2 separate regions of the Homo sapiens genome follow, and region 1 is linked to region 2. The links come from fine-mapping of genetic effects on gene expression. A gene starts in region 2. The other region holds a variant in brackets. All regions are shown on one strand. Distances are between the middles of the regions. Region 1 has its middle 22 kb from the start of STIM2-AS1. Region 2 holds the start of STIM2-AS1 (STIM2 antisense RNA 1).

Evidence for each region. PIP is the estimated chance that this variant, and not a neighbour inherited with it, causes the effect.
Region 1: its variant is fine-mapped to the expression of STIM2-AS1 in whole blood (TOPMed, PIP above 0.99).

What each region holds. Positions count from the first base shown.
Region 1 is chr4:26,834,688-26,843,222 of GRCh38, forward strand. It overlaps a transcript of TBC1D19 not described here. Among named protein-coding and RNA genes, the nearest start is that of STIM2-AS1, 22 kb to the right of the region's middle. The variant C/CG (reference allele first, on the strand shown) is at 4,890.
Region 2 is chr4:26,855,723-26,864,713 of GRCh38, forward strand. It overlaps STIM2-AS1 (STIM2 antisense RNA 1), which reads right to left and starts at 4,877. Exons shown (of 2, transcript NR_134674.1): 1 at 4,788-4,877; 2 at 3,902-4,306. STIM2 (stromal interaction molecule 2) reads left to right here and starts at 5,119. Exons shown (of 12, transcript NM_020860.4): 1 at 5,119-5,647. The coding sequence starts at 5,497. It also overlaps a transcript of TBC1D19 not described here. RefSeq lists enhancers at 1,496-1,595, 4,676-4,775 and silencers at 1,716-2,005, 2,026-2,075, 4,866-5,235, 5,246-5,815.

The DNA of each region.
Region 1 (8,535 bases), 21 kb before region 2:
TCGTTTTCATTCTTCTTCATAGGATTCTCTCCTCATCCATTGAGGGATGATGTTTCTCAAGGTTTTTCCTCTTTTCTTTTCACTCTTAACTATTTTGCCAGGGAGACCCCATCTACGTTCATGTTTTCAATTCCATCTATACTTTGATGATGCTCACATTTAGATGGTCAAGCAAATCCCGCTCCCAAGGTTCAGACCCAGCTATCATGCTTTCTACTCAGCATCACCACCTGGATGTGCCATATTCACAAAGCTCTATGTGTGTAGAACTGAACTGATATTTGAGCCCTTAGCCCTTACTCCCTGTGGTAGGCAGAATAATGGCCTCCAAAGATGTCCACCTCTTAATCACTGAAATTTGTGAATATGTTGTCTTATGTGGCAAAAGGGACTTACTTGGCAAATGTGAATAAGTTAAGGATCTTGATGGGAAGATAATCCTGGATTATGTGAGTGAATCCAATGTAATCACCTGTGTCCTTATAAGAGGGAGGCAGGAGTGTCAGAATCATAGAGAGAGTTTAGAAGATGCAGCTCTACTGGCTTTGAAGATGGAGGAAGGGGCCATGAGCCAAGGAATGCAGGTAGCCTGTAGAAGCCGGAGAACACAAGGAAATGGATTCTCCCCTAGAGCCTGCAGAAGGAAGCAGCCATTCCAACACCTTGATTTTAGCCCAGTGAGACCCACATGGACAGCTGACATCCAGACCTATAAGATAATAAATTTCTGTTAAGTCACTAAGTTTGTGATAATTTGTTACAGCAGCAATAAGAAATGAGTACACTTCCAAAAGCTCACCCTTCTACATTTTCGATCTCAGCAGTGTCACTTCTGTTCATGCAGTTCATAAAGGCAAGGCAGAATCGTAGGAGCCATCCTTGACTCCGTTTCCCAGGTGCACACATCCACTCTCCTTCCTGAACACCTCTCGAATCTACCATTTCTTTCCATTGCCATAACCTAGTCTCAGCCACTATTCTTGATTTCTCTGGCACCTTCCTAAATAGTTGCCCTGCCTCCCTTCACCCTATTCTTTGCCCTGAAGTCAACATGAACTTCCTAAATGAAAACCTGATCATGTCACGTTTCTACTATAAACCTTCAATGGCTTCCCATTGTCCTTAGGGTAAAGTTCAAACTTTGATGTGGCTCACCAGGCTTGTGTTCTGTGATGCCTATTTTCTTCCCTAGCCATTATCTCTCCCCATTCTCTTCTTTCCTGTTCTCCCCTTCAAAATACGTATGCTGCCTATACCACATGCATTCTGGTTCTTGCATGTGAAGTGCTCTCTCTCTCTCTCTCTCTCTCTCTCTCTCTATCACTTCTGGGCCTTTGGACATGATTTTGTTTCTATCAAGAGCATTTCTCCCTGGCCCTTGCCTCTTTGGCTTCAGACTTTGGCTTCCTCTGGAAGCACTTCCTGACCCTTCCAGTTTGGTTTAAACGTCATTCTTATGTGCCCTGACACTTCGACCTCCCCTGTCTTAATGCTCATCAAGCTACATTGTAATTGCTTATTTAATTGTACGTCTCCTCAACTAGACTTTAAACTCCATGAAGTTCTAGAAGAATGGCAGCCAAGTCTGTCTTACTCATAGTTGTATTTCCAGCTTCTAGCACAGTGCCTGGCACAGAGGGGTTCCTCAACAAATGTATTTTAAATGAATTCAAAGAGACCCATGGACAAAATTGAGAAGAGGGAGAAGTCTTTTGAAGCTGATGGTGTTGGAGGGGCAGAGGGAGGTGGGAATCAAGAAACACTTCAGGGAATATGTAGTGTTTGTACTGGGCCCTTGTCCAGCTTTTGAGCTGTTGTCCTGCACCCCCAGCTGCCTTTCTATATTATGCTCTGTAGAGGTACGAACAGGTGTCTGAAAACTACATTTCCTAGGCTCCCTTGCCAGCTGGGTCCAGAGGAAAATCCAAAGGCAGCAGCAGAGAGAAGAGTCCTGCTCTAGTTTTGAGAGTGAAGACTGCTGGAAGTTGCTGGAGCAGCAGCAGGGGTTGCAGGGAGGAGGAGAATTCCAGATTGCAGCAGCCCAGGCAGAGGCAGCAGCTTTCCAGCAGTTCCAGCCATGTCCCTTTGTCTCTCCAGAACTGGCAAGCCTCACAGCAGCAAGTGTGAATGTAGGGACTTCAGCCCAAGGAATTTTAGCTATGGCTTCTTTTCTTGCTCCTTTAACCCCTCTGTTTCTTCCATTTACTCTTCCAAACCTCCCAGCACCTTGGAAATCAATTCACTGTATCAAATTCCCTGTGTTTGAAACATCTAGAGTGGGAGTCTATTTTCGAGCCTGGACCCAGACCCATATTGCCTTGAAGACAGGATAGCGGGAGAAGACAGAAAGGCATTCCATTGGAGAGACTGCCCCAAGCAAGTGTCCAGAATGGGAATGTTTGGAGGGGTTGTGGAGAGTGAAAATCAACCTATTTGGTTAGGGCATAGTGAATGAATAGGAGAGTGGCAAGTCACTAAACCACAGAGGCATAAAAGGTCTATATAATGGAGAAGCTCCAATACTGGGTGGAAAAGTTTGTACTGGTTTTGGTAAGCAATAGAGATTCACTGAGGCCTGAGTCAAGTGCCATAATGGGAGATGGGCATGGAGAAGACCATTTTGCTTAGTGGTGAGTGTGATGAGTTGGAAAAAAAAGAAAGATGCAATAGACTAGCAAATATGTAGTATTTAGAGGCACTGGTTGGATGAGATGAATGAGAGAGGAAAATCAAAGATGGCACCACAATTTTCCCCCTGTTTAACTGGAAGGTAGGGCCCCTAGGAGATGTCAGGAAGATATCAGGAAGAATGAAAGTGGCTTGAAAGCTGTGGAAGGCAGAGAATAATATTTGGCATCTGTATAGCACTTGGAGTTTTCACATATGTGATATCATTTGATTTAAATTCCAATCTCTTAGCTCTTTTCACTAGTCATTGATATTGATCTATAACTGGGCAAAGAAGCTGAGGCTACATAACATGATTTAGCGATCATCTGTATGGAGGAGACAAGCAAAAACAGGACACCGGATGAGATCACTAAGGGCAAGAGTAGAGAAGCCAGACCTACAAGGATGCATGTGGGGTGCGGGTGAGTCTGGGAAGGATGAAATGTTGGAGGTAAGAGAAAGGCTGGTTAGAAAGGAGGATGGTAAGTATTGATAGCAGGAGGACCAAGACAGTTGGTGCTACATAAGCCCAGAGAGAAGGAGATTTTATAAAAAAATTGGACATTTTTTCCCCTAAAAAATGACTGTCACATTCTGCAAGGTGTTAAGGAGAATAAAGGTTGAAGAAAAATCCACTGGGTTTGCAGATAACAGTTTCAATGATTAAGTGGGGACAGAATCTATATTTCTTGTGGCTAAAGAGTGGTTGAATTATAAGAAACAAGGCAATGAGAATGGCTCATTTTCCCATTCTCTTGGCCCCTTTCCCATCCATTTCCTCTGTTTGCCACCAAGTCCTTCCCTCCTCATACCCTCAGCCTACTCACCCATGCAACTTCCGATACCACCTGCATCTGAGTGTAGAATGGGCCAGTTGTTGGACGTATGTATACGAAGCTGGCTCACTGACTTGCAAGTTTGGATTTCAGAGAGACACAGTCTGTGTGACCAGTATCAGCTTACTGTAGAGGCTGAAAGTATTTATTAGTGTCAAAGGTTGGTACTTAAAGTTGTAGACACCAGCTCAAAGTTTTTTATTAAAGACATCTAGCAGTTTATTAAGCAAAGGCTGGCTGACATATATGACTTCATGAAAAACGGGAATAAAAGAATTATACAATTTTCTCCCTTTAAAAAAAAAGCATCGCTTGTGTTCTTACATACTTGACATCCACTAGAAGTCATAAAATCACACCAACACAGTATATATGTTAAAAGCTCCATATCTCCTGAACCCCTGGTGAAGTCTGCAGAACACATTCAAAACAGTTGGTGAGAGTAGGCCACAGCGGGAGGGAGCAGACTTCCTGTACTTTGTCAGACTGGAGGAAGTCAAAGTTAAAATCTGATTACTTCGCAAGGATTCCAAAACCTGATCTAAATCGCCTTTCAGAATCTGTTAACAAATCAAAGAGCATTTCCAGTAGCACCAAGCAAGAGGCCTTATGGCCTGATAATTCTGGTAAGTTCCACTTTTGGGATAGGGAATATTTGACCAAGTTAGATCCTTCATAAAATGCAGAGCCTGTTAAACCCCAACCTAAATATGTTCATAATAAAATATCAGCCTTCCAAATTACATTCTATATGAACAAACAAGCCCACGAAACATCCAAACAACAGTGCAGTAGGTGGAAACAGATGTCATCATTTATTTTAAGATTCGTTTATTCAACAATCGAATGGAGGAATGTTGCTTATTCTATACAACATCTTAGGATTTAAGTAGTTTACCTGCTATTTTGAAACATGCATAGGGCTGTCAAATAGTTTCCTGGGTTTTCAGAATAGCTCCTAAACTGTGCAACTCTGCTTTCTTTCCACAATATAAACAAAAAGGGTTTTTTTTTCCTTAAACTTGCCATAAAAACGATGTCGTCATAGGATAAAAATTTTAAAGCGGCTTTAAAAAATTAAAACCTATGAATTAGTCTCAAGCAGCCTAACTTTATTTTTCTAACCACCAATTCCAACAGTAATAAATACTTATGATTGAGATCTCTGAGTATGATACTTATAATAGGACATAGTAAAAGCCTAGTTAATTTCCACTTCTGGTCTTGAATCGATTTTTTTCTAATGTGTAAAATTTCAAACAGAGCTCTTGCTTCATTTCATGTTACTTTCCTTCTTTATTTAGTTAAAGAAGATGTGTGGGAAGGAGCATGAGGGAGGCATAGGGATAGCAGGGTGGGTTCAATCTCCTTTTCCATCACCCC[C/CG]CCGCCCTTTCTGTCAAAAAAAAAATGCTGAAAAAATTAGTCTCTACCCTTGCTGGCTCAACTTCATCACCTCCCATTCACTTATCCGCCCACTGCCATCTGGCTTCCATCCCAAAACTCCATTCAGATTGTTCTCATTAAGATCACCAATGCTTTCCTCCTTGCCAGATCCAATGACCTATTTTTAGGTCTCCTCCTGGTTGACCTTCTGCGGCATTGCACATGCAATGCAGACCCGAGGCTCCAAACTCACATGCCCATAGGCTGGCTGCAGTCTACACAGGTGAAGCTGGGTTTGGTATTGCGTAGGGTGAGTCACAGGAAGCCTGTCCAACTGTGGGCATGTGTCCCTTCTAAGGTAGCAGCTGCTGCTGTCTCTGGTTGATTTTGGTCATGGAGGAATGTGGACACCGCATTGATAAATATTTTGATTTTTTTTTTTAAAGAAAACTTGGTTTTTATGAGAATGTTTATAATTCTTCTTTCTTTCTCTTTCTCTCTTCCTCTCTTTCTTTCTTTCTTTTTGACTGAGTTATACTCTGTCGCCCAGGCTGGAGTGCAGTGGTGTGACCTCAGCTCACTGCAACCTCCGCCTCCTGGGTTCAAGTGATTCTCCTGCCTCAGCCTCCTGAGTAGCTGGGATTACATGTGCCCACCATCATGCCCAGCCAATTTTTGTATTTTTAGTAGAGACGAGGTCTTACCATGTTGGCCAGGATGGTCTCAAACTCCTGACCTCAGGCAATCTGCCTGCCTTGGCCTCCCAAAGTCCTGGGATTACAGGTGTGAGCCACTGCACCCAGCCTCTAATTTCTAACTATTGGCTCAATTTTCGTTTAATGCTTGTAGGGAAAGTAGACATCACTGTAGACCTCCGAGGAGAAGACTGTACTGTAGATGAGTCTATGGTTCTCTTGCCCTCTGGGCCTGGTTCTTTATAGGTTCTGCCTATTTGTTTCTGCCCATTTTTCTGCTGTTCCCCTGGCCCCCATACCTACCTCAATCATATTGAGGCTCCTTGTGTTCCTTCTTAGTCCCCTTCTATTTTCTCCTCCTCGTGGGAAATGTTGTAGACCCAGGGCTAGCTTCCTGGGCTTGCAGTCAGTGCAGTTGCCCTGAGCCCCACATTCAGAAGGGCTCCATGCTCATGGGTTAGTGCTCTGCAGCTGCTATCTTGAAATTCTTACGTTATCTCTGAATTTATGTTTTGTGAGTGAAATACGATGGGATAACGAGCATGTGCCAGGGACTTAGCATTTCAGCTCAAGCGCTGTCCTTCTCACTGCCCTTCTTCTCACTTCTCAGCCTGAGAAGAGTTCTTGGCCACCTGTTCCTTCAACCTTCCCCGACCCAGGTCCTGCCACTCTCCTCCTCTAACCCTTCCCCCCAAGACTGCCATTATCCTCCACCCTGGCAGGAAGCTGAGTGCAGGTGTAAGAAGGGTTGGGGTCCTTGCACCTGCATCTCTAGTCAAGGCCTGGCAACAGTGGCTGTCCTCACCCTAGCCTGAGTGCATGAGGCTGGATACAGTGGCTCATGCCTGTAATCCCAGCACTTTTGGAGGCTAAGGTGGGCGGATCACCTGAGGTCAGGAGTTTGAGCCCACCCTGGCCAACATGGAGAAACCAAAAATACAAAATTCTCTACCAAAAATACAAAAATTAGCCAGGCATGGTGGCGTGTGCCTGTAGTCCCAGCTACTCGGGAGGCTGAGCAAGAGAATTGCTTGAACCTGGGAGGTAGAGGTTGCAGTGAGCTGAGATCACCCCACTGCACTCCAGCCTGGGTGACAGAGTGAGACTCTGTCTCAAAAAAAAAAAAAAAAAAGTGTATGACTTGTTGAGGGTCAGCCTGTTACCCCCTGTGATCCAAGTCCCTAGCACATCTTGATGCAGAGGTTGCAATATCCTTGGGATTGCCCATCTGCTATGGGCTGGGACAACTGACTCTTGGAAAGTGGAGATGCCTGACTTGACTTCCCAGCCCCTCACTGAGGTGTGGTGCATGCGAGCTGGTGAGAGGGGGAACATGGCAGCTGTCAGGCTCAAGGGCATATGGAACTTCCAAGTCCCACGGCAGCAACCAGAGCATCTGGGAGAGTCTGAACTTACCCTACGCGTATTTTTGGATCCTTTGGGCCACTCTGTGCCTGTGAGAACCTTTTCTTTCTCCTTTTAGCTTCTCTGAGTCTGGCTTGTGTTCATTTCTTCTGACCAGCTTGAGACACCATCCGGGGTCAAGCCATAAAATATGAATGGTGTGATGTCAGTGATTCTGACAGGAGCTCAATGTTCTAATATTTACATCTAGAACTGGCATTGCACAATATAAAGATGAACAGTAAAATTCATGCCAGTAATTTAAAATCTTTATTTAGAGCAATATTAAATAGTGAATTAAAAACTCACCATGACATGTTGAGAGAGAAAGAGAGATCTTGGAGGAAAGGGAATAGTTTATATTTTAGGACCTTAGTATCTTTAGTCATTTTAATGGCAATTTTCCTGCTCTTTGAACAAAGGCCACCAAATTTTTATTTTTTATCAGGCCCCACAAATTGTATACCTGGTTCTGCCCAGGCCTGCTTTTGCTGATGGTTCCCCACTACATCTTCAGTCTGGATTCTGCATCTCCTCTCCAGACCTGCTGTATCTTGGGGGTTTGCAGGCAACTCAAGCTCAACATGTTCTCACCTGACATCATCCCTCAAGTGTGTTTCTCCCTTTACATTTCCTTGTTTTCCTTTTTCTTTTCTTTTCTTTTCTTTTTTTTTTTTTTTTTTTTTTGAGACAGGGTCTCACTCTGTCACCCAGGCTGGAGTGCAGTGGTGTGATCACGGTTCACTGCAGCCTCCAACTCCTGGGCACAGGTGATCCCCCCACCACAGGGTAGCTGGGACTATAGGCATGCACCACCACACCTGGCTTTCCTTCTCCTTCCTTCCCTTTCTTCCCTTCCTTCCCTCCCTCCCTCCCTCCCTCTTTCTTTCCTTTTCCTTCCTCCCTCCCTTTCTTTCTTTCTTTCTTTCTTTCTTTCTTTCTTTCTTTCTTTCTTTCTTTCTTTCTTTCTTTTTCTTTCTTCTTTCCTTTCTTTCTCTTATTTTTTTGTAAAGATGGGGTTTCACCATGTTGCCCCCGGCTGGTCTTGAACTCCTGGGCTCAAGCAATTTGCCTGCCTCAGCCTCCCCAAATGCTGGGATTAGGATTATAGGCGTGAGCCACAGTGCCTGGCCTATTTCCATGTTTTCTTAATGAAATATCATCTCGACACACATTTGTAACAGAGTAGTTGCTAAATTGTTGAATGGATGAATGAAATCGTAGAAACATTTTCATTTTTCTCTGTTCTTTCACAGAAAAAGGAAGAATTAAGTCTTCCTGGGCAATTAGGAAAAGGCTCTTGGAGGAGGTAATATATGATCTGTGGTTTTAAGAATGAACAGGTCTTTCAGGCAGCATGCATGATACGTTTCTACAGCTATCTGGGTGACTAGAAGTTATTTCTGAGCACAGGCTTGTCATGGAGAAGAAAAGGGGAAGGAGAAGAATCAGGAACAACAATTCTTCCACTGCCAGAAACATAAAACATAACTGAAATTAATGAGTTGCAAAATAATTCCTGTATTAAAAATTTTTTGGAACGTGTT
Region 2 (8,991 bases):
AAGTAGGTGTTTTGTATACTTTAAGATTGAAAGTAGGTAATTCCTTTTTAGATAATCTCTTCAAGTGCTGTAGGGAACCCCTTGGCAGCTTCCTGCCTCATAATTCACAGACATTATGAATGTTTTTAAAATTAATTTTTAATTGACAAATATTGTGTATATTTATGGAGTACAATGTTTTGAGCTATATGTACATTGTAGAACAATTCAACTGAGCTAACATATCTATTATCTCACTGACTTAACCTTTTTTGTAGTGACAATGTTAAAAATCTATCTTTTTAGCAATTTTGAAATAGACATTAACTGTGGTTATTGTGAAGTACAATAGATCACTCAAACATATTCCTCCAGTCTAACAGTAACCTTATACCCTTTGGTCAGCATCTTCCCTTTCCCCATCCCTCGCCCCATTCACACTTACCAGCCTCTGGTAATCACCTTTATACTGTTTCTATGAGATGAACTTTTTTTTAGATTCCACATATGTGGGGTCATACAATGTTTGTTTTTCTACGCCTGGCTTATTTCACTTAGCCTAATGTCCTCCAGTTCCACCCATGTTGCAGTGAATGAAGAATTTCCTTCTTTTTTAAGGCTCTATAGTATTCCACTGTGTGTATATATACCCTATTTTCCTTATCCATTCATCTGTTGATGGACATTTAGTTTGCTTCCATATCTTGGCTATTGTAAATAATGCTGAAATGAACATGAGAGTGCAGATATCTCATTGACATACTGATTTCCATTCCTTTGGATATATACTCAGAAGTGGGATTGCTGGATCATATGATAATTCTATTCCTAGTTTTTTAGGAACCTCCATACTACTTTCCAAAATGGGTATACTAATTTACATTTCCACTAACAGTATACCAGGGTTTCCTTTTCTCCACATCCTCATCAACACTTATTTGTCTTTTTGATAATAGCCATCATTTTCTCACCATTTTCAATTGTTATGATCTTTACTTTAGCTCCATCACAATTCTAGTCCTCTTTTTGTGGAAAATGTCAACATTCCTGCTGCTTCAGCATCTGTCAGTTATCATGTGATCAATAATATTCATGTAACACCTCAAATTAAGCAGTATAGAGCAAACACATCCTATTTAATAATATAAACGACTCACCCCACACGCCCTCTGATTGCACCGGGCTTTAGCGGGCAAAGTTAACTCGCTTCTGTTGAGCGGCTTTTAAAAAACTATGTTAGTTAAATCTAGAGTTTTTAACTCCCTATCCTGGATGCAAGACACTTAAAAAGACTTCCTTCCTCTGCTCCCAGAGAAAGCAGCAATAAAATTTTCCACCTTCACTACACCACTTGAGGACTATCTCATGTTTTATTGGGTTTAGGGAGGAAGGGTCTTGCTAATGAGTTACTTCCACGGTGTCACTTCTATTCCTAGTGCTTTATTAAACAATTTGAGGACCCCATTTTTATGCTAGGGCTTCATTGATCGAATGGAGCCATCACATTGTCTATATCACTTTAGAGGTGTTTCCAAAGTTCTCAGCACCTCGAGTCCCTTGTTAGCGTTTGTCGAGAGTCAGCGGGAAAACTCGATACCTAACAGCGTTTCCACCGAAGGCAGCTCTCTGAGGGGCTTCACCATCAAGAGCAAGCGAACCAGGCTGGACCACCCTGCTGGGTCTGTCCCGACATTCCAGGGCCACGCAGGGAAGTCAAAGACGGGAAGGAGAAGATCAGTGGGAGGGCGAGGCGCCGGAATTCCCCACTTCTATACCTCCACCCCTACTACCGCCCCACGTCCACCACCCTCCCCACTGACAGCCCGCCGCGCCCGCCCACGCGGTGACGCCATCTCGCGGCTGCCGGGCGCCCCGCCCACAGAGTGGGAGCCGGAAGCCGGGCGGGCAGCGGCGCGCGGCGTCCCGGAACCCAGCAGCTTGAGAACTCGCGCACCTGGGGGAAGCCGGCAGGAGGCAGCGGGCATGCGCGGGGCTGCGGTGGCGCAGGCGCCCTGCCGCGCCCGCCAGTCGGGAACCGGTTCTCCGAGTCCGAGCTGGCGGCGCGCTGTGGGCTGTGCGGGAGCGAGGGGAGAAGAGGGAGATAGGGAGCCCGACATTTGGGAAGGGCAGGCTTGCCTCTGGGATGGGGAGGAGCCGGTGCACGGATCCTGCTGTGCCTCTGTGCAGGGCGCGCCCAGTAGTTTGGGATTTGCAAGAAAATGCAATCAAACAACATGGGCAAAGTGCGATGCGTTTATCCTAAGCCAAGAACACGCTTAGAATGCACGCCCAGAGCCAGTTCTCCCCAAGGGATGGCAACGCACCTGTGTGCCGGGCTCCGCGCAAGGGCTTTCCCTGTTTATTCTCCCGCCGCCGCTAACAACCTTGTGGGGCGGGCATGGTTGGATCCCCAATTTAAAAGTGGGGAAACTGAGGACAGATTAACCTGTCTGCACGTAACACAGCTGAAAAGTGGTGGAATTGCTATTTCTTTCAGGTTTGCCTGATTCTAGAGCTCAATGCTGCCCATCAGGTGTTTGAAGTCATGATTTGGTGAAAATGGGACAGTGAAGACGTTCTGAAAAAAAAAAAAGGCATATGATGAGGTTTGGACATTGAGAGGTATAGGCTGGCTGTAGGAGTCGGGTAAGTGCCAAGGAAAAGGGCCTCAGGGTAGCTTTTGAATGGGATTTGGCGACAGGGAAGGAGAGAAAGCTTTGGGGTGGTGAGAACAAGGGAAGGGAAAGGGAAAACAAAAGCGTGGAGGTGGGAAAGGAAACCTGGGGAGAAAGGTAAGCGATTGCCTCATTTGGAGTCTTGTGTTTATGTTTGGCTTGCAAATAGAAGCATATATAATTCTAGGGTTGGGCTTTTCTTGCCAAGGAATGGATTTTCTCCTTTCTGTTCTTAGGTTTATGCTGTGATGCACAGTGACACGTACCTCTCTCTGTTCAGCAAGGTTCATTCCGGCTATTCATTTAACAGCTGGAAAGTTCTATATCTGTGGCAAAGATGATCTGCGGTGGAGGGTTTATTCCTGGCCCCTGGCCTTCCTGGCCTTGGTCTTTTGAGTGCTTGCCGGATCCCTAGTTCCTTTCCGGTTCCAGTAGTGAGAGGAATAAACACTTAAAACTCCAGTCCAATACACTCTCAATGTCAATACCCTCCCTATCTTTAAAAGAAGAAAAAAAAATACTAAATCATCTTTGTTTAAAGAATCCTGGCCCCTGTGATTTGTTAATTTGTTCGTGGTTTTATACTGTTACTACTGTAACAGTTTGCACTACACCATTTAGCAACTGATTACTACTTTGTATTAGCCTCTAATTGTTTAATGGGTGTACATTTTATCTCCTTAAAAAGATTGTAAGATGCCTTAGTCATGGGACTGTGCTGTTTATCTCATAGCCCTGACTGCTGACTTAATTGCCTTTTTCAAGTGTCTCTCTTGCCTAACCCTCACCACTCAGTACTCTGCCTGGCACATACTAGGTACTCAGTAAACATTTAATAAATGAAATGCCTCCTGGAGAGCAGGAACAAGCTTGTTATTTATATTGTTCTGGTCCCCTAGCAGAATTATCTTCTCTGGTGGGCACTCAGCACTCTGGTGTGACTTCATCGCTGTGCCTTTCAGCAGGGGAAATATAATCTCCCGGTTGCCCTATAAAGAATTGCCACCTGAACACTATGCCCACAAGAAGTCTGCTGAGAAATAACTGTTGATAGATTGACTTAGCCTCAAAGACATCCTTGATTCTTTTCTAAAGTGTGCATCTGCCCTTCCACAATAAACGATATTTGTGGTTATCTTGGCCAGGCTACCTAAGAAATACTTTAGGAGAATGTAATTTGAGTATCTTCTTGGCTTGAGAAAGCAAGCAAACAAACCAATAAGCAGAATGAAACCAACAAAACCCAATAGCAAAAGGATCTTCGTGTTTAATAACCCTATCTGCAAATTTTAAACAATTTTGTGCCCCTGGGAGAAAGAATGCCTCCTTGCGTGTGAATTTCCAGGGCTTTTAATTTATAGTGACAGTACATTCAACACTTCCTTTTAAATTTGAAGGGAGGTGGCCTTAAAAATATGCTGGCAACTAGTTTGGATGAGAAAGATTCCGGTTCTTTATTTATTCAAACCAATTAGACCAGGTCTGAACAGGATTTACAACAGAGAGCAGATCTTGGGTGCACAAGAGCTTTGCTTCATTCCAGGTTGGCGAAAACAAGTCAAGTCTACATCATTGTTCTGTCAGCCGGTTCAGGATACAGCACAGAGTCGATGGGATGGGGGTGGGAAGGTGATGAGTTCAGGTAAATGTACCTAGGAGAGTCAGAGGCTAAAGTAAATTCTCTTAAATAGGCCTTTTCAGTGGCTGCTAAATCTCGCTCATTTCCCATGAATTAGCTGTGGGATATTGGGGACAACTTACTTCACATTTCTAGGTCTTAGTCTCTTCATTCGTAAAAGGGGGTAACGATAATTTTGGAGTTATAGCATGTAAATGTGTAAAACGGTTAGAGCAATGCCTGGTACACTCACACATAGCACGCGCTTTGTGAAATGTTTGGCAAGTAAATAAAACGCTAAGCTATGCTAACCGCGTCTAAACAGCCAGCCACTTGTAAGCCCCACCTATATTGAAATTACGGGGACGCTGCTGTTTTCCGATTGCAAGATTTTCCTGATCCATGCAATTACTTTCGCTGCCCTCTACGAGGCTGAAACTCGCCCTCAGGATGTGGGACGTCTGGACTCTTCTCTCCGTCCCCTTGTAGCCCCCCACTCCCCCTCGCGGTGGTACCGTGAATGAGGGAGAGGTACACGTCCCCCTTCTTCCCCGCCTCCTATCTTCGCGGCTCGCTAAAGCGTTATCAGCCGCCCCACGGTACTACCGTCCGTCTAGGAACGCCTCCGGGGCGGGGCTGGGATGCCGCGCACGCGCAGTACAGCAGCGCCGCGCCTGCGCCGTGGAGAGCCTGAGGGAGGCGGGGGATTGGTATGCGAGCGAATGTGCGAGGGGAGGGAGGCGTCCCGGCGGAGCGTGGTACTACGACCAGCGCGGGCCGGAGGGGGCGGGGGGATGCGCCGCGGCGGCGGCGGCGCGGGAGCTGGGGTTGGTGTTTGGCGGCGCCAGAGCAGCGGATCCCGGTCTCGCCGCAGCAGCAGCGCGGGTGTCGTGCACCGCCTGAAGACGCCGTACCTTTCTACCCCCCACCTTTTTTTTTTTTTTTTTTAAATAACCGGAACCAATGAACGCAGCCGGGATCAGAGCTCCGGAGGCCGCCGGTGCCGATGGGACCAGGCTGGCGCCCGGCGGGAGCCCGTGTCTGAGGCGGCGGGGGCGGCCGGAGGAGTCGCCGGCGGCGGTGGTGGCGCCTCGCGGAGCCGGCGAGCTGCAGGCGGCCGGGGCGCCGCTGCGCTTTCACCCGGCTTCTCCTCGGCGCCTTCATCCCGCCTCGACTCCTGGCCCAGCGTGGGGCTGGCTGCTGCGGCGGCGGCGCTGGGCTGCGTTGCTGGTGCTCGGGCTGCTGGTAGCCGGAGCGGCGGACGGATGCGAGCTTGTGCCCCGGCACCTCCGCGGGCGGCGGGCGACTGGCTCTGCCGCAACTGCCGCCTCCTCTCCCGCCGCGGCGGCCGGCGATAGCCCGGCGCTCATGACAGGTGAGGGGCCGGGGGGCGGCGGGCGGGGCTCGGCCGGCAGCGATGGGACCCCCAACCCGTGCAGAGGTCAGCATCTCCGCCGGACGTCCGCTATTCCGCGGCTCCGGCCAGGGCGCGATGCGGAGCCCTGCCTGCTGCTTCGTCGCGGTCCCCTGCACTCCGGACGTCTTTCCTTTTCACCCCGACACCCCGCCCTCGCCGAGCCTCTCGACGGCACTGATTCCCCTCCCTTCAGTCGGGCTCTCCGATCTTCCAAGCTGAGCAATGCGGTGGTTTCTCTTTCGTGCTGCAGAAGTGCCAGCAGGGTCTGCAGGGGACTGGGCTGATTTTTTTTTTTTTTTTTTTTTTGAGGCTGCTAGAAAAAGTCAGCAGCAGCATTGCGGTATTGAGTCTACCTCTGGTGCTGCTTTTGCAAAGGCAGCTGGCAGCGAGTCTCACCGGTTCAAAGCTCCGCTTGAGCACAGCGTCCCAGGGGAGCCTGCTAAAGGGGATTCTTTGAGAGCCATAATACCTAGTGATATTAGTGGTTCCGTGTTAGTATGCAGAAATGCCTAAGTTTACAGTGCATTTTTTGCGGGGTGGAAGGAGGCCGTTTTAAGTGGTGATGGAAAGTGTTTGGTGGTGGGAGCATCACTGGGTGACAAAGGGTGTAGAAACCTCAGCAGGTAACCAGAAATTATACCTAAAATTTGCAAAGTGCAGCATACTCGGGGCTTGCAGCTGGCAGCACAGTTCTGATAGACTGCACTAGCACCTTTTTTTTAATATATAGAACGATCTCATAATTGAAAACTTGGAAACGTGTTTTGTAAGGTTAAGTGCAGAATTGTATCCTTTTTAAAGCCTTCCGGTGTTATGTACAACTGATCAGTTGTGGTTTAAGTAAAAGTTATTATATAAGGACCCTGAAATGATTTCTTTGGGAAAAGTAATGGAGCTAAAATAATGGTTTTTTTTTTTTTTTTTAGTATTTCACTTATTTTTAAAGTAGATCTGTAGATTTCCTACAATAATTGTAAGACTAAAAAGTTTAAAGTGGCAGAAGATGACCCGTGATTAATTTAACCAAAATGATAGTCCTGCGGGCGTCTGGAAGTTACTAACAGCTTCTCTGACAAGTGCTCAGGAACTGTATTCTTTAAAGCCAAGCAGTTTCTCTGATTTCTATGATAGGATATTTACTATTCTAGAGAGAAGAAGGATGTTGGTAAACTTTAAAAGCTTTGGAGGATGTAGAGTATAGAACATAATGGTCAGCATGTTTAACTTTACCCTGAAGCATATCAAGCCCTATTAAATGGAACTTGATACATCAAACCTACCAATTGGGTAACTGGGATAAAGTGATTATAGAATAATCAGTATTAGGAGCATAGTACAGTTTGAGTGAGAAGATAGGTCAGACAGCTTTATGCTTGAATAGTATTTATTCTCCAAATAAAAATGTGGCAAGTAACAGTATAGTGAAGAATAGTGATTATTAGGAAAGTTGATAAATAAGACTATAATTTGAAGATTTAATGCCTCATGCAGGAAGGGAAGGAGCAGGAATATTTAGGCTTCTAGAAGGTATAAGTGGTTCTAGGTTTCTCGAGCAGAAAAATGTGGTTAATACATAATTGGCTAATGCTCTGTGAAAAAGTAATTGGTAAAAAGGCAAGCAATTCAGAAAATTTAGTATTTATTGACTGCTAATAAGTATATTTTATACTGTGTAGATCACATCAAGAAAATTGGTCAGATGGAATTTTAATAAGCCATTTACAATCCCTTTTAAGACTTAAATTTCTCTATACTTATTTAAGGCATGGGGGAAAAAGGTGATTCTTATTGGAAAAAAATCCGATGTATCACACAAAATGAGTTTGTGCCATAGGGCTTTAAAATAAGTTTGCTAGAAGAATACCCTGGAATTATTTCTAACGTTCTTTTACTTTCCTTTTGTCAGAATATTGATTTTTAACAAGTTAAACGTTTCCACTTAAAGTTTAAATCATAAAACTACACAATATACAAATTAAATTGTTATTTTAATAAGTTTATGTAAATACAGTCAATAGCACCCATATCTTGGTAAAGGTAAACTGAAAATCTATGATGAAGTTAGAAAATATTGAAAATTTCTTTGAACTATATGGCCTCTATAGGGCTCTTTCCCATTCTTAAGAGTGTATGAATAGTGCTTTCTTTTATGGTTCTATTTGTAAATGTTATGCAAAGCCTAGAACCTAATTTATTAGCATTAGTGTACACTTCAGGAAGTAAAACCGTAGACTGAATTTACAAAATACTGTGGTGTGGTATCATATTGTAGGCAGCGTTAATGGATAGAGATGGAGTAGAGCATCAGTAATAAGAGAACTAAACGTCACGTGAATTTTGAAAATTGAAAATTTTTGAAAGCATTCTGAGAGAAGAATTGGTCTCTTTGTCTCCTGATTAAAGTTGTGATTTAGCTGTGAGTATTCTCAATAGCTCTGCAAAATGACAGCCAAAATCACTTTTCTGTTTTCTTCTCGAGATTGGCATTTTTAATACTTACCTTTAGAAGCTCCCTAAGAGTTAGCCTTTGACTAATAAAATGTATAAAACATTCTTTTTCACTGCAGCTTGCCTCTCAAGTGTTTTACTTTAGGGATTTAGTGTACTTTAAGAGTAAATTGCCTTTAAATTATCCTGTGTTTATTTGCTCAAATAAACTGTTATTGCTCAAAACTATACAAATCATCCAAATAAACAGACCCATTGTCATAATGAATACAGGTTTATATTTTCTTTTCCTTTTTAAATATTACCTTTTCAGAATTCAGTGTGCAAATGTTTTTGGTGAGACAGAACCAATATTCATAACATTATATAGTAAGGGTTTTAAATTACATATACAGCGCTTATATATTTAGGGCACTTACTTTGAAAGTGATTGAAATTTAAAGCAAGTTAGGGATAGGTGACTGAGAGCTTGGTGATTGTATTCTAAAGCAGTGCTTTAATAACTCAAAACAATAGTTTTTTTTTTCCTTCTTTGTCTAACAGATTTAGAGTTGATGAATTGATCCTGGTAGGGAGTGACCGATCTCATCCAGATAGGGTCCCTGAGAAATAGCTTATGAAAGGGAAACAAACAAACAAAAAAATGCCGAATAATTGAAACATTACATTATTTCTTACGGAATTGTTTCAGAATTTTTGGGAACAAATTTTAACTGAAAATATTTGCCTCTATCCTTTTAAAGAATGAATTAAAGTAACATTCTTTAGTGCCTATGTGAAGGTTTTATCTTAACTGTAATACCATTTCACTGATTTGGCATGTTATTAGAAATAACATATATAAAAACATGTTT